Linked DNA regions of Homo sapiens: region 1 is linked to region 2. The links come from fine-mapping of genetic effects on gene expression. Tissue or cell type: cerebellum. Region 2 holds a variant in brackets; the other region holds the start of a gene. All regions are shown on one strand. Distances are between the middles of the regions.

Region 1 (8,085 bases), 78 kb before region 2:
GAAGTCCTAAGTGGGTAAGCAAGCTGAAGGCAAATATTGACTTGCTCTGGGTCACAATGGGCATGTTTTTTAAAAAAGACACCGTGTGGAAGAAAGGAAGAGGAGATATGAGATACACACAAAGGAGAAGACCACTGGGGGTACAGGAGAAATACGGGGGTTTACTAAGTTTCTGCTGTGAGTTGTGTGAATTACAACTTTTCTAGCTCTCTGTAAAGAGCTCAGTAAAGCTTTCATTTTTTTAAACCAATGGACTGGGTGTTGGCTGTTTTAGAGGATGCAAGGAGATGCTGAGTTTGACCTTAAGTGGCCTCAAGGGTATAGAGCAACCAGGCCATCCGTAGGAGTTACCCTTCTGCATTGTGTTACTGTCGTGAGGGGGATCTTGGACCAAAACTTAAGTGGGCAAGAGCAAGAATGTTATTTAATTTCTGTATCAAGTCCCCATCCCACTAGACTGGCAGAAAACATTAGCCTTGGGCCTTCTTGGATTTCCTTCCCCACCTCTCCAGTTACGTGATGCCAAGAGACCGGGGAGAGTTCGTCTTGTTCCTGCCTCACCCTCGCCATTCAAGTATGGCTGAGGGTCCCCTGCCTCTGTTGTCTAGAGGCCCTGCCCTGGGACAAGAACACCTTTCTTCAAAACAGCCCTTGTATGTGAGCCAGGCACAGTGGCTCACACCTGTAATCCCAACACTTTCAGAGGCCAAGGTTAGGGGGCGGGGGGGATCCCTTGACGCCAGGAGTTTGTGACCAGCCTGGGCAAAACAGTAATACCTCCATCTCTACAGGAAAAAAAAAATAATCTTAAAAACCTAAAAAGCCCTTGTATGGATTTTCTAACACAGTCTACACACAACCTGCCCTTTCTGGGTGGCTGTCCCCCAGCCACCTCTACAACAGACAGGCAGGGAGGCTGGGCACAGGCTCCCTCTCAAAAGAACTTCTCTCTCTACTTCCCTCCTCCTGACATGGGGCAGGATGGAGATGAGACAGGAGATCACTTCTCCCTCCCAGGTTCCAGTTAAGACATTTTGTCTCTACATCAGTCCTCTCTTTCACTGGTTCTACAGTCTTCCAAGTTCCCCTGTGGATACAGGCTTTGAGCACCTGAAGGAGACAGGAAAGGACACACCTTTCCCAGTCAGTAAGGGTCACCCGAACTTAGGCTCTGTACTTGTTCTCCACTATTCCATAGTATAGGTCACACCATGAGTTTTGCTTTTGTCTGTTTTTAACCAGGCCGCTGTTGATTGTGGTTATTGAAAGGGTTTATTTCTTCAACTATAACCCCACTCCATTACGTCACCATTGTCATTGTAATGACCCCCTCTGCCATGGTCACTGGAACACTGGCACTCCTAGTCAGCCAGATAGAGACAAAGGCACTAAGGCCAGAACAACATCAGAGCTGGAAGGGACTTTTTGTTTGTTTGTTTTGTTTTGTTTTGTTTTGAGACAGGGTCTCTCTCTGTCGCCCAGGCTGGAGTGCAGTGGCCCGATCATGGCTCACGGCAGCCTTAACCTCCCTGGCTCAAGGGATCTGGAAAGGACTTTTCTGAAGCTCTGCACCAGCCCCTTTACTGCACCCTGCCTGAGGCCACACCCACCCAGTAGCCGGTGAGTGTGAGAATCCAATCCCGGAAATCCAGCCCTAGTTTTCATTTTGCCAGGAGAATGGCTGGGAATTCTCAGAGCGGGGTACCCTTGCTCAAAGCAAGCTCTCAGAGTCTGACCTTCTTCCAGCCCCTAGCAAGAGAAACAAAAGGCATGGCTAGAGGTGGGGAAGCACCAGAGACCCAGCATCTCCCCGACAGAGGCAGACGTAGCCCTGTTACAGACATGAATGATTTTGTATGCCACACACCGCTCTGCGTCTGTGTCTTGGACATCTTCCCCTGCCAGTAAGCATAACTCTATTCTCTGCGCTTGCTCCACAGTATCCCACAGTACAGACAATATCTGTTTTTTGTCTGTTTGGGTTTTGTCTGTTTGAACCAGCCCCATACTGATGAGCATTTGGGTTGATTCCAGGAATACAACCCATATACTACAAAGGAAGTCCTTTCATGCCTCCGTGCGCACCTGACTCCACACTTTTTCAAAGTAATTCTCCCACCCACATGGTGGGCAGTGTGGTGCATGTCCTCAGTGTAGACCTAGGTGCAGGGAAAGGTGGAATTTGTCCACAGTCACACAGTAAGTTTGTGCTAGAGATGGCAAACACGAGTCCCCAAGACTCCAGACTTAACACTCTCTTAGTCCCAGTTGATGCTCCCTTAACACCAGACTTTTTGTTTGTTTCAAATGACCCAGAATAGGCAAGTGTGAGGGTTGCACCAGGCAATGTGGGGTGAGGGAGAGACCATTAAATAACCCTGATTGATCAAGGGGCTGCCGTGTGTAGTCACCCATGGGATGAAGTAGCTTGGACTATCTCCCCAACTTGCAAAGCACATTCATACCCATGATCTCATCTTAATCTTCTGGGTTCCATATTATTATCTTTTCCATTTAGAAATAAGGAAACTGAAGTGCAGAATGGTAACCTGCCCCCAAATCACACAACTAGTAGTAGTAGAGCCAGGACTAGGAGCCCTGTTCTTTAAAAGTAAATATATTATTACTGCTAAAAAGAAAGATAGCATTGCTGAAAGTGTGAAAAAACTGAAATTGTAACTACAAAAGAAAATAACAACATTGCAGAAAATATGAAAAAAAAAAACCTTGAAAGCAAGAAAAACAAACTAAAAGAAAAAATCTTACTGGGTGACCATGGACCTGTCATCTCATCTCTCTGAACCTCAGTTGTCTCATTTTTAAAGAAAGGGAATGAGGATAAGCACAGCGACGGCAGCCAGTACATACTGAGCACCGCCTTACCAAATTTCCAAGTCTGACCTTTCCCTGCAGGCTTCATGCAAGTATACATATTTCGTACGGCTATAATCATGGGAAGCACAATTTTGTTTGCCGTTTTTCACCTGACACTATCTTGTAAAGTTTTTCTATTGACTACACAGACTCAGCTAGCACCGTCCCAGCAGTTGCATTTTTCAAGGTTGATTAACCCCTGTCCCTGGTGCTGGATATTTCTTGCCACCAAGTTTTCACTATTTTGGCTGATGCTGCAAGAAACATCTTTTGGCTTCTGAGAAATTCTCCAAAGTCAGAGACTGAGGCATTCAGACCCTGAACTCCTGCTTTCCCAAGGCTTTTCACCCAACCCCATCTGCCCTCTGCCTCAGGGCCTGGGCAGAGCCTCGGCCTTGCTGACAGCGTGCTGGAGAGGCTCACCAGGCTCAGCAGCCTCAGGGCAGGCTCAGTGAAGCTTGTAGGCAAAGGGGCTGAAGGGGTCTTTCTTTTGTGTTCCCCTGACTGTTCCTAAGAACATGTGCATTTATGCTTCATACCCTAACTAGGAAAGTTCTCCTTAAATCTAACCCCCAAATCCCATCTTCTGTTCTTTCTACATACAATATAAACTTCTTTGGGCCACAGTCTTGTGAGAATCTCTCCAAAACGTATAGGAAGACATAATGTTGTCTTTACAATTGCACGGTGTCCTCCAACTGTTAAGCCTGTCCCAGGTGAGGTTAAGAATTTCAGTCCCTCTCCACTGCCTCACATCCATCTGGCCAGATGCGTTTCTTAAACTCCTCTTTATCAGCCTGGGGCTGTCACCCATTCTACCCATTGGTCTGCCAGTCGCTGTAAGGTTGTCATGTACCAGAGGCATGAGTACAAATGATGGGGGTGGGGACGGGGGACCTGAGGAGCTGGGTTCAAGCTATGCTTCCCTGCTTGCTGGCACTGAGACCTTGGGGGAAGTCATGTTACTGGCCTCCCTTCAGCTCCCTCGCAGCTTGGGTTTCCCCATCAGAAAATTGGAAGCGATTAGAACCTGTACTTAGCAAGAGTTCTGGGACATCCCTTGTGTGAAAGTGCCAGATACGCTGTAAAGCAGTACCTAGGAGTGCCCCACCTGGGACCACTTTTGAAAATGTCCAAGCCCCACCCCACCACCACCACCACCACAAGGTAACGTTCTGCCCCACTTTTCTCATCCATGTTGGGTGGAGACTTGCGCCATCCCTCGGCTCTCTACATCCATCCGCACCACGCCCAGGTGAACTCACACTCGGGACCCTGAACCCGCCCACTCCAGGCCTTGCGGGCCCTTCTCTCCTCTTCTGCACGCCCCACCCTCCTTTCCCACCCAGACTCCAGTGTGCCCACACCCCACTCCCCATCTTAGCCTGCCTTTCCCCTCTCCCCCAGCGCACGCGTGCATCAGGGCACTCACGAAGCCACCCCGGCAACATCTGGGAGCACGCGCCTCCACATCTGGAAGGTGGGCGCAAGCGTAGCAGGGCCGGTCGGGTTCCTCGCCGCCCCCCGGCCCCGCAGGTGGTGGAGCAGGGCGGGGTGAGGGAGGGGGAGGCCAGCGGGGCTGGGCGGGGCCCGGGGGGCGGGGGCCTGACGGCCGGGCCGGGCGGCGGAGCTGCAAGGGACAGAGGCGCGGCAGGCGCGCGGAGCCAGCGGAGCCAGCTGAGCCCGAGCCCAGCCCGCGCCCGCGCCGCCATGCCCCTGGCCTTCTGCGGCAGCGAGAACCACTCGGCCGCCTACCGGGTGGACCAGGGGGTCCTCAACAACGGCTGCTTTGTGGACGCGCTCAACGTGGTGCCGCACGTCTTCCTACTCTTCATCACCTTCCCCATCCTCTTCATTGGTGAGTGCGCGCAGCGAGCCGCGGAGGAGGGGACGGGAGAGCAGGGAGGGAGGAGGAGGCGCTGCGCGCCGCACCGCTCGGCGTCCCCTTCCGGCCCGCGACCGCCGTCCGCCTCGTTCCCGGGGTCCCCTGCCCTGTGTCCTGCCCGCCGGTCCCCGCACTCGCACACCAGCTCATCCCTTCACTCCCCCGGTGCCCCCGATCCCGCGCCAAACACAGCGGACGTTTGTGACCCATGGGATCACCAAGTTTTGCTTCTGCAGGGCCAAGAGCTGGGATGGGGAAAAGGGAAAGAGGAGGTCTCAGCACGCAGTGGGAAACTGGAGAGGGGTCGGGCCTCACCCTCCGTGGCGCAGCTTAGGGAGCCGGGTCACCCCTCCCGCAAGGCAGCCTCCCTGTCAGCCGCAGCTGGGCCTAGGGAAGAGGGAAGCCTGTGCTTTGGAGTCTGGGATGGAGGCCCAGCTAACCCCTATGCTTTCACCGGGCTGAGCCGCGCAGTGGTCCGTGATCTCTGACAGTCCCAGGCCCGCGCCCTGGGCGAGGAGAGGCGAGAGCTAGGGACTTGGATTCCCTTCCCCCGCCACCCCACCCGGGCATGTGTCTCCAGAGCGCAACTTCTCAGGCTCTGCGCAAAGTAGCTCCGACTCGCCGACGCAGCGACCCCGGCGCCCTTGCTTGCAAAGTTGGGCGCCACGGCCGGGACAATCGTGCGTGCCTCTCCACTGAGGTCCCCCCCATCTCTCTCCAAGACCTTGACTCTTCCAGACCAGTCAAGTCTATCAACTCATAGGGTGTCCCCTGCATCCCCAAAACGTGTTCATTCACTTTAAGAAAACAAGCAAATCTTAAAATTCATATACAGCTTTGGGGAAGAAAGGAAAGATTGTCACAAAATTAGATTTACAAGAGGTTGCTGCAGAAGCAGAGTTGCTAGTTATTAACAAAGACAGTTAGATAGAAATAGAAATAAAACATACAAAATATGTGCTCATATGTGCATCAAAAATCAAAAAAGAACAGCATTTACACTTCTGTTCTCAGCCAAACGGTTTATTAACCTGATGACTTGTCACACAAGAAGTTAGTATGTATAATGGGGTACCTTGGCAGGGCACAGTGGCTTACATCTGTAATCTCAGCATTTTGGTGGGCTGTGACAGGAAGACTGCTTGAGTCCAGGAGTTCGAGACCAGCCTGGGCAACATAGTGAGACCCCCCCCGCCCTTTCTACAAAAAATTAAAAATTAGCTGAGCATGGTGATGTGCGCCTGTAGTCCCAGCTACTCAGGAGGCTGAGGCGGGAGGATCACTTGAGCCTAGGAGATCAAGGCTGTAGTGAGCCGTGATCGTGGCACTGCACTCCAGCAGAGGCAACAGAGCAAGACCCTGTCTCAGTAAAAAGGTGTGGTGGGGGAGGTACCAGCATAGGACCAGGCTGAATGAGTTGGACGTTTAGTTTGTGTGTACCAGCCTTGGGGATCCTCATGTGTAGGTGTCACCCTCACCATGGACCCAATGCCCAAGCACCTTTCTGGGGTTCATGCACCCTCTTCCTCCTCCAAGTGGGCAGGCATCCTGCCTCTGACTGTCTCTCCCTGCAGGATGGGGAAGTCAGAGCTCCAAGGTGCACATCCACCACAGCACATGGCTTCATTTCCCTGGGCACAACCTGCGGTGGATCCTGACCTTCATGCTGCTCTTCGTCCTGGTGTGTGAGATTGCAGAGGGCATCCTGTCTGATGGGTGAGTGACTGTCTGAGGACTCAGGAAAGTGAATCTGCTCCAGGGTACTTCCTGAAAGGCCCAAGGAGATCCTAGCTCACCTATATTCCACAAGCCCATGTCTTTTGTTACTACATCCAGCAGCTCAGTGTCTTCTATGTGCCAACCTCTCTGAGCTGGGCACTGGACGCAAGTGAGTCCCAGGCCCTGCCATCAGTCCAGGAGAGCAGAGGGAACACGGACCTGCATGCCAAGTCCCAGTGAAATAATGCTAGAGCCTATTAGAATGCCACAACTCCAGTGAAAAATGTCTGGCCTCTTCTACAACCTGCCGGAGTTACCTTCTTGGAAAAAAAAAAAAATCTAACCATGCCACCCACTCTTGCATAAGACCTTTCCTTGGTTCTCAGCTGTTTTGAAGATGTGGTCTCAGATCCTCAGCCCACCATTCAAGGTCTTCACAGTCAGCCCCACCTATCTCTGGCCTCATTCCCCATGCCCACCTTCCGTTTGGGCCTCACAGCACACTCCTCACACCTCTGCTACAGCACAGATCACACTGTATGTTAAAGTTTATGTCTATTTGCAAAACTGTCTTCAGAGTCAGAAAGGCCTAAGAGTTAGAATCTGAGTCTTGTTCATCTTTGTGTTCACAGTGCAAGGCATGTGATAAACATAAACATTATTCAGTCCATAAACATTTATTGGGTCCTTAGGAGAATGAATGAAACCATGTTACAAATAAGTACTCTGGGAGGTGAGAGGAAGGCAGAATTGGGCAAGCTCCATGGTTGAGAGGGCTTTGGAGCGGAGTCTGGAAGGGTGACTAGGCTTCAGACACACAGAGGAGGAAGGAGAGAGAGAACTGGTGGTGCCTGAGGGAAGGGAAAAGGCACCAAAGAGAAAAGCAGGTAGGGCTAGGGAGCAGCGCAGGGGCTGGAGCATTAAACACAGGCTGGGGAGCGATGGAGGCTGAGGCTGGGAACCCAGGTTGGGGCATCTCAGGAGGACTGTGAATCCCAGCCTGCATGTTTGGGTCGGATTTGGTCAGCAGTTTGGAACAGAAGAGAGATGTCATCAGCATAACACTTTTAGGTGGGAACCTGAGGTGTTCAGCGCAGGCTGGAGGCAGGGAGAATCTAGAGGTATAATAGAAGCAGGACTTAGCATTGACTGCAGTAGTCTAGGTGAGCAATAACTGCAGACAGAAATGGTGTGTCAGCAGTCAGGGACAGAAGAGGAGCGGGAGCAGCCATCTCACTAAGGAAGAATCCAGTAACCAGCAAGGATGAGAGACTGCCAGGAGAGGGAGTGGTGGAGGAGAGGGATATTTGGCTTGAGTATCTGAGGTCCAGCGCCCCCTGAGCTGGAATCAGATTATACCCAGACTGCACTCCTGCAGTGCTGCCTGGCTCCTGTAGTTGGATGGCAGGGGATAGGCTCCCTCATCCTCCCTCCCGTTCCCCACCTTCCCTTCCCCAATGTCCCTGCATCCTGGCTTCAGCAGTGATCTCTAAAATACCTGCTTGACTTGGAGGCAGCAGCTCTGCCTGCTTATTAAAGTCCCTAGACCAGCAAGAAGACCAGAAGGCATACTGCTACACAAGCACGTGACAAGTCCGCCTCCACCC
Region 2 (8,095 bases):
GAGTACTGATTTGTGAGATAAAATATATTTCTGACTGCAGGTTGTGGTCAGAAAGGTTAAGTACCTTTCCCAAGTGCACATAGTTGGCTAGAAACTAGAGTTGAGATACTTATTAGCAATAATAAAATTTAGATGCATTTTGGACACAATTACCTGCCCCAAAGGATCAACATTTGTATAAATGGCTTTTTGCTTGGATGATCCAGAATGGCCCGACACCCACACGAACAACATAGCTTTTTGACACTCAAAAAATTCAAAGTGCTGCACAAGCTGTTCTACAAAGTTCATTTCTTCTGCCAGAGAAACAGCCCAGTCTCTGTGGCACCCAGTCTGACCCTGGAGATGGTTTATCAGGGAAATCAACTTCCTGCATCCCAAACTGGCCTCCCTGGCACTGATGTGCTTGTCGAGGTGCAGCTTTGGGGAGCAGGAGGCAATTCTGTTGCCATGGAAACCTCTGGCCTTACCCCGAGACGAAACCTATCATTTCAGCACATCACTGGCCAGGGTCTAAAGAGCTCCTTGATGGGGTAAGCGGAAGACGGGGTTGAACGCTTTGAGTTTGGTCTTCTGTTCCTTTGGCCAGCTGTCTCAAGGTTCAGATTGTTCACCTGTAAAATGGAACTAGCACTGCCTGCCCAGCCTTAGCTCAGCTCCAGGCTGTGCAGCAGAAGTACAGGGACAGATGGCGACCTGGGGTTGACAATGCCCAGGACAGCAGTAATTGTGCCCCACATCAGGCTGTGTCTAAGCATTGTACATAAACGATCTCATTCAGTGCTCACAAAAGCTCAATGGGCTGGTGGCATTGTCTTCCCCCTTCACGGGGTAAGAAGCTGAGGCCTAGAGAGGTAAGGCCATTCACCCACACAGCGGTAGCAGGTGGAGCTAGGCTTCAGGCCCAGGCCGAGCCCTGAGCCTGCCCTCTTAACTGTTCCACTCTGTTCCCCGCCACAGGGACCTGCAGCAGCTGGATGACACCACCCAGCTTCCACTTCTCTCACACTTTGCCGAAACCGTAGAAGGACTCACCACCATCCGGGCCTTCAGGTACGAGTCCACATTCCCCCAAGGTAGGAGTGGAACAGGGGTGGGGCCAGGGGGCACAGGCCATGAGATTTGATTCTCAGGACTCCACTTGGGAAGGCCAAGGACACGTTCTCTCTCAAGCTGCCTCAGGTCCCAAGGCCCAAGGGATATCCACCAGCAGGGACAGGCCAGGTGGGCTCCCACTGAATGTTCTAGAGAGGAAAATTCCAGCTCTGTAGACAAGCCCAGGACCTCTGTGAGGCAGAGCATGAAAAGAGACAAAGCTGGGACAAGTCTTCATGTATCAACGCTAGAAAGGGCCTTAGGTGCGGGCCACCCTAAGCCCTTCTTTTATTAAGGAGCCCCTGTGTGCCAAACACTATGCTGAGTACTGTACAGGCCAATCCCACTCATTCTGCACTGCAACCCTCGGTGCTGAGAATGGTCATTTCCATTGCACAGACAAGGAAACTGAGGCACAGAGACGTTCTATAACCTCTCTGTGTAAGGTGCCACAAAGCCCAGACTTGAACCTATTTGTTCATGCAACAAACATTTACTAAGCCCCGACTATGTGCTAAGCCCCATGCCAGGCACTAAAAAGATGAGTCAAATAAGCCGCTGCCCTGCAGGCGTTTACAGCCCAGACTTTGAGCAGGCCAGGATAAATCCACGTGACAAGTATTCTGAAAAAAGCGGATTCAAGGGCTGTGGGAGCATAGAAGAGAGACAGTCCGGGAAGGTTTTTGTACCAGAGGTGTCATCAGAACTAGGACTCAAAGGAGGGGCAGGAGTTCACCAGGCTGAGGAATTCCTGAAAACTTCAGTGCCCCTGCCATCGTCTCACTACCCTGAGTGGTGATGTTGGGGTGGACAGGAGCATCTGAGGTTGCCTGGGGAATGAGGGAAGCTGTTGTTTCCCACTCCCCAAGAGTCTGTCTGATCTCCAGAGGCATCTCTCTTCCAGTCAGGCAGGCCAGAGACCCCTGACACACAAAGTTGGGCTCTTTTCTCATCTTCATCCAGAGAGTGATAATAGGTTATTTTTAGGGTGGCACAGCTGCACGAAGTATGACAGTAACCATGAGACACCAAGCACTGTGTCCAGGAGTAACCATAGGGCACAAGGACCAGCCAAGGGCCAGAGAGGCTTACATCTCCTCCCCCCAACCCCTGAAGTCCAGCTTCAGCCCTGGAGAGGTATCCAGGCCCCTCTGCCCACCCTGGAGCACCTAGGGCCAGTGGAAATCCACCTCTTAGGGATCTTGTCTAAGTAAAGAAGAGCAGAGCAAAGCTCTGCCCTGGCCTTGGCGCTGCTCCCTGGACATCCCTTGCCCCTGGACAAGCCTATGCTGTGTCTTCCACAAAGAAGCTTGCTGGGGACTGGATTATGACTCTAGAGTCTCCTCCCAGCCTCCTCTTCTCAAGCCTGAACTTCTCCCGTTCCTTCAACTTCCAGGTCCCTCGACATTACTGAGCCTAGCCTTTGCTCTAAGTTTTGGTGATTTCCCTCTCTCAATTGGTGTCTCAGAGGGCCCTGGGGTAGAGAGATGGTGACTCTTCTAGAGTGGGCCACAGCCCCTTGTGTGCAGATCCCAGCTTCCTGTAAACAGCCTCAGATCAGGCCAAACCTGTGGTCAGCCAGAGCCACTGCTACCCAGTGAGGTCTTCCACACCCTACTGACACGGTGAATGATTTTTAAATTTGAATGAAAGGCTTTTTAATCAACCCCATACACATTTAATGCATTGGCTTTAATCCAGCAGCCTGTTGAGAGCTATTAGCACTTATTGATTGCCCACTTACTGTATGCCAGGCACCGTGCTAAGTGTTGTATGTGCATTATTACATTTAATCCTCACAAGGACCACATAACATAGGTACGAATCGCCACATTCTCCAGATGCAGAAGCGAGACCCAGAGAGGCTGGGTAATCAATCCAAGGTCACACAGACTGCGGGGGCTGGCGCTGAGCTTGGAACCCAGGTTTGCCTGACCTTCTGGGCTTTCCTAAGAGATCTTATTTTTTCCCAAAAGAGTTTCAAGAGTGCCCAGCACTGGGCTCAGTGGCGGGCTCGGAGGTTGTTTTCGTTCATGTAGGAACTATCACTTCCCCATTTTTTTCATAAGAAAACTGAGTCTCAGTCCTGATACACAGCCAGGAAGTTGTGATGTTCAGGCTCCAACCTGGGTTTACATGGCTCCGAGGCTGGGGCTCTTTTCTAGTCCTCAGACACACTGTCGCACGCCTGTGGCAGAAGCTCCCATCTCACACTTGCCGACCCTCAACTCACACAGTCCTGAGACCCACATACGCTGAGCGCCTCACACTCCTATAACACGCACATGCCCTGATGCACACACATTTTCAACACGCACTTACTCTACCCTTCAGGCATGGTTTCACACTCACTGCAGACACGTCACCCTCCCACACGTCTCCACCCTGGGGGTGTGCAGTAGCATGCTCTCTCCCACCTCAGAACCTCCCTTCAGTCCCCTCAGACACATGCCCTCTCTCCACGCAGAGACAATCAAAGCTGAACTAACACCTTCCAGGGTGAAAAGCAAATGCCCAGTAAGGTACGTCTTGGGTGCCTCCGTGTCCCCTGAGTTTGGTCCTATCAAACCAGCGATGATGAGGCAGCTTTTCTTTCGTTCCTTCCTCCATCATCAAACAAGTGCTCCTGCATCTCCTCTGGGCCGGGCCTACGTCAGCAAGGTCTGAGGGAAGCGGCCAAGGAGAGTGATGACGGCAGCCCAGGTTGATCAGAGAAAGGAGGCAGGTCCATGCGCAGTAACTCAGGGAAAACATGATGAGGACCTAAGGATGAGAAAGAAGCCTCCAGAGTTCCCTGTGCAGAGAGATTCCATCAATTTCAGAGGGTCAGGGGAGTGCCATGCATTCATCCAACAAATATTTATTGATAGTGCCAGGTGCTGGGGTATATTGGTGAATAAAACATCTTCATGGAATTTGCAGTCTATTGAGGGAGATGATTATAAATAGCTAGAGAAATGCATGTACAGCAGATACTGTGGAGCAAACAGGTTGCAGACAATAATAGGGGAAACCTACTTTATAGTAAGGTAGTAGCCAGGAAGAGCCTCTCTGAGGAGGCAGCATTTAAGGCAAGCCCTGAAGGTTGAGTTGAGCCAGCCTTATGAAGAGCAAGGGCAAAAGCCTTCCAGGAAAAGGGAATAGTGTGTGCAAAGGCCCTGGGGTAGGGAAGACTTTAGTATTGTCACAGAGCTTTTAAAAAGCTGAGTGGCTGCAGCATAGTGTGTGGGGTGTTTGTGGCAGGAATTAGGTTGGCAGGAGGGGGTTCTTCATCCTATAAGCAGTGGAAGGTCATTAATATTCTTTTTTATTTGTTTTTTTTTTTTTTTTTTTTTTTTTTTTTGAGGCAGAGTCTCACTTTGTCACCCAGGCTGGAGTGCAGTGAGGTGATCTTGGCTCACTGCAACCTCCACCTCCCGGGTTCAAGCAATTATCCTGGCTTCCTCAGCCTCCCAAGTAGCTGGGATTACAGGTGTGCACCACCATGCCCAGCTACTAATTTTTGTATTATTAGTAGAGACAGAATTCCACCATGTTGGCCAGGCTGGTCTTGAACTCTTGACCTCAGGTGATCCGCC[C/T]GCCTCAGCCTCCCAAAGTGCTGGGATTACAGGGGTGAGTCACCGCATCCGGCCGGAGATCATTAATATTCTAAACAGTGGGGGAGAGGACACAGTTTGCGATTTAGATAGATTAAGCCAGCCACTGTGTGGAGCATGGACTGTAGGGAGACAGCAGGTAGACGTATTCAGGAAGCTGATGCAGTAGTCCAGGTGAGAGTTTGTGGTGGGCAGGAAGCAGGATAGAGGGGGAGGGAGGCAAGGACTCTTTTAGAGAGAGACATAAGAGGACTTGCCAAGGGGCTGAATGTGAATCCAGGTGATTCCTGGGTGAGAAACTGGGTAAAGGGAGGTGCCCCTTATTATAATGGGAAAGACCTAGAGAAAATGGATCTTGGGGTGAAAACAAGAGTTTGGAGGAGGTGGGGATTCTGGACAGGTTTGAATAAGCAGAAAGGAGTGGGGTGGACATTCCAGAGAGGGATAGCTTACATGAAGTGGCCACGGTGGCATGTCTGGGGACTGGAGGGGCCCTGGAGCCTCCCTCTGCAGGTAGGGAGACTCCTAGGAGCTATGTGGACCAACACTGTTCCCTTAGGAGCTTCTCATCCTCCCTCCAGGTATGAGGCCCGGTTCCAGCAGAAGCTTCTCGAATACACAGACTCCAACAACATTGCTTCCCTCTTCCTCACAGCTGCCAACAGATGGCTGGAAGTCCGAATGGCAAGTGCTATTCCCCTCTACCCTGGCCTCTGATAGGAGGGTGGGGCCAGAGCAAGAGCACACAGGTACCTGGGGATGAAAGAGAGGATAGGATACCAGATCGTGTGGACACCAAGCCTTCCTGCTTCCCCCAGCCCTGGTGGTCCTCCTAGTGTCTAGCCTGTGCTCCTTTTCCCCATATCACTGCCTGGAGGCTTGTGTATCTGAGGTGTGTGCCAGTGGCAAGAACAGTTGTGGTGAATGTGTATCTGCAGTGGGTCATATGACACCCACATTGTGTGTGTTTGTGGGCCAGCTGAGGCGTGCATGTTAAAGGGTGTGCAGGGGCTAGGGGGTAGGGGAGCATGAGCTTGTGGGACATGTTGGCTCCTGGGGCTCCAGCCTTCGCAGCCCTTGTGTGTGTCTGGTGACGTGTGCATGAGTTGCAGGGCTGGAGTGGAGGCCTGGCTGAGCTGCTCTCTGCCCCGAAAAGGAGTGAGGTAGAACAGGGGCCTGTGGCTCTAACCCCTGAGCGCCCAGGTCAGCTCCTCTCCCTCCCCAGGAGTACATCGGTGCATGTGTGGTGCTCATCGCAGCGGTGACCTCCATCTCCAACTCCCTGCACAGGGAGCTCTCTGCTGGCCTGGTGGGCCTGGGCCTTACCTACGCCCTAATGGTGAGCGGCAGTGGGCTAGGGCAGAGGAGGGGTCAGACACCAGCACTCCCGGAGCACCTTCGTCACTGGAGACATGAGACACTCCCAGGCCTTACCCCAATTTCATTTGCATCTGATGCCAGAGGGACAGTGCGGGCAGGAAGGCTGACCAGCAGGCCCCAGGGCCCAGGCCCCAGACAGGTGGAGGTTGGGGAGCCACATGACTGACCCTCCCTGTGCCTCCAGGGAGGGCTGCTCTGAGCAGGCAGTGGATGGCAGCAAAAGGAATCTGGGGCCCTGGCCCCTCTCCAGCCTTAAGAAGAGCCATTCTGGTGGCTGAGGACAGAACTAAGCGACCATGGAGTGTGCGCCACTGGCTTGCTCCCCACAGGTCTCCAACTACCTCAACTGGATGGTGAGGAACCTGGCAGACATGGAGCTCCAGCTGGGGGCTGTGAAGCGCATCCATGGGCTCCTGAAAACCGAGGCAGAGAGCTACGAGGGGCTCCTGGGTGAGAGGCTCAGGGAGAGGGGTGGGGAAGAGTCCAAGGAGGAGTGTGTCTGGGTTGGGGGCCACAAGGGAGCCTGGGGATGGGGTGGCACTTTCGGATACTAGCTGTGGCCCATGCCTGGTGGCTGAGCCCAGCCCGGCCCCCAGCACCATCGCTGATCCCAAAGAACTGGCCAGACCAAGGGAAGATCCAGATCCAGAACCTGAGCGTGCGCTACGACAGCTCCCTGAAGCCGGTGCTGAAGCACGTCAATGCCCTCATCGCCCCTGGACAGAAGGTCAGAGCACGGGCCCAACCCAATGCTGCAGGACAGGCGTGAGCAGGGGATGGGGCATGCACGGAGCTGGATGGCTTCGCAGTCACCTCGTGGCCCTCCAGGGCCGAGGCCTCTCACTATTCAGACATCGCAGTCTCCTGCCCTGGGCCTGTGGGGGCCCATCTTTCCTCTCCTTCTATTGCCTTCCCCCAGTGCTGCCCTCAGGCCTTGTCTTCTCACTCATCCACCAAGGAGACCGACACTCTGGACTCCCCCAGCTCACACGGGCTTTGTCAGGGCCTCCCTCTCTGCGAATGGTCAGGGGCTTTCCCTAGGGCACTGCCCCGAGCTTCAGGGCAGGGACCTGGGGGCAGACAGCGAGGCCACCCTTGTATTGAGGGTGAGCCCCTGCCTATGGCCCTGGCCCAGCTCTCCTCTCGTTTCCCACTCTGTCTCTTTGTCTCTGTCTCACTTTGCTGTGGCTGTCCATGTCATTCTCTGACCTTGGGATGTACCTCTGTCCCTGCCTCTCTCATCCTTCTATGTCACTATCTGTCTCCGTATTGTAATTTCTGTTGGTACCCAAGTGCCAGGAAGCAACGGGATCAGAGGTGGCTCCATTGTAGGGCGGGGCACACAGACACATCCATGCATACCACTCTCAGCTGCCCCTGTGTCCTCCTGCCACACCCATGCCCATAGAGACACACCACTGCCCCCCAGCTCTCCTTCAGCCAAGTACCCGGCACACCCAGACCCACACCAAGGCCCAGGCAAATGGACATCCATGCCTGCACTTGCGTGCCGGTCCCTGTGTAAGCCCTCTCTGGACCCACTGCAGGAAACAAGCCCAAACCTGTGGTGTCCAAAGAGAAACTAGTCAGAAAACCAGGCCAAAAAGATACCCTGTGACCTCCCACACCTGCACACACACCCAGAGCTAGCATAGAGGCTATTCCCAGCAGCCCCAGAGTCCCAGTGGCGGTGCCTGCTTCTCTCTTTCCAGATCGGGATCTGCGGCCGCACCGGCAGTGGGAAGTCCTCCTTCTCTCTTGCCTTCTTCCGCATGGTGGACACGTTCGAAGGTGAGTTGTAAGGCGGGCACCCCACGTGTACCCACAGCCACCAGATGAGGCCTCAGCCCTGGCACGTGGTCAGACATGACAGGAGGCCCAGCAGTCACCGCCTTCCCCTGCACCCTCACTGGGACCCATGCAGGGCACATCATCATTGATGGCATTGACATCGCCAAACTGCCGCTGCACACCCTGCGCTCACGCCTCTCCATCATCCTGCAGGACCCCGTCCTCTTCAGCGG

Evidence for each region. PIP is the estimated chance that this variant, and not a neighbour inherited with it, causes the effect.
Region 1: ABCC8 starts here. The variant in region 2 is fine-mapped to the expression of ABCC8 in cerebellum (GTEx, PIP above 0.99).

Annotation. Positions count from the first base shown.
Region 1 is chr11:17,473,276-17,481,360 of GRCh38, reverse strand. It overlaps ABCC8 (ATP binding cassette subfamily C member 8), which reads left to right and starts at 4,516. Exons shown (of 39, transcript NM_000352.6): 1 at 4,516-4,732; 2 at 6,334-6,475. The coding sequence starts at 4,585. LOC124902641 (a long non-coding RNA gene) reads right to left here and starts at 4,710. Exons shown (of 2, transcript XR_007062609.1): 1 at 4,630-4,710. RefSeq lists an enhancer at 5,304-5,860.
Region 2 is chr11:17,395,619-17,403,713 of GRCh38, reverse strand. It overlaps ABCC8 (ATP binding cassette subfamily C member 8), which reads left to right. Exons shown (of 39, transcript NM_000352.6): 29 at 961-1,053; 30 at 5,273-5,375; 31 at 5,917-6,030; 32 at 6,401-6,521; 33 at 6,668-6,798; 34 at 7,784-7,862; 35 at 7,996-8,095. Among named protein-coding and RNA genes, the nearest start is that of KCNJ11, 11 kb to the right of the region's middle. The variant C/T (reference allele first, on the strand shown) is at 4,674.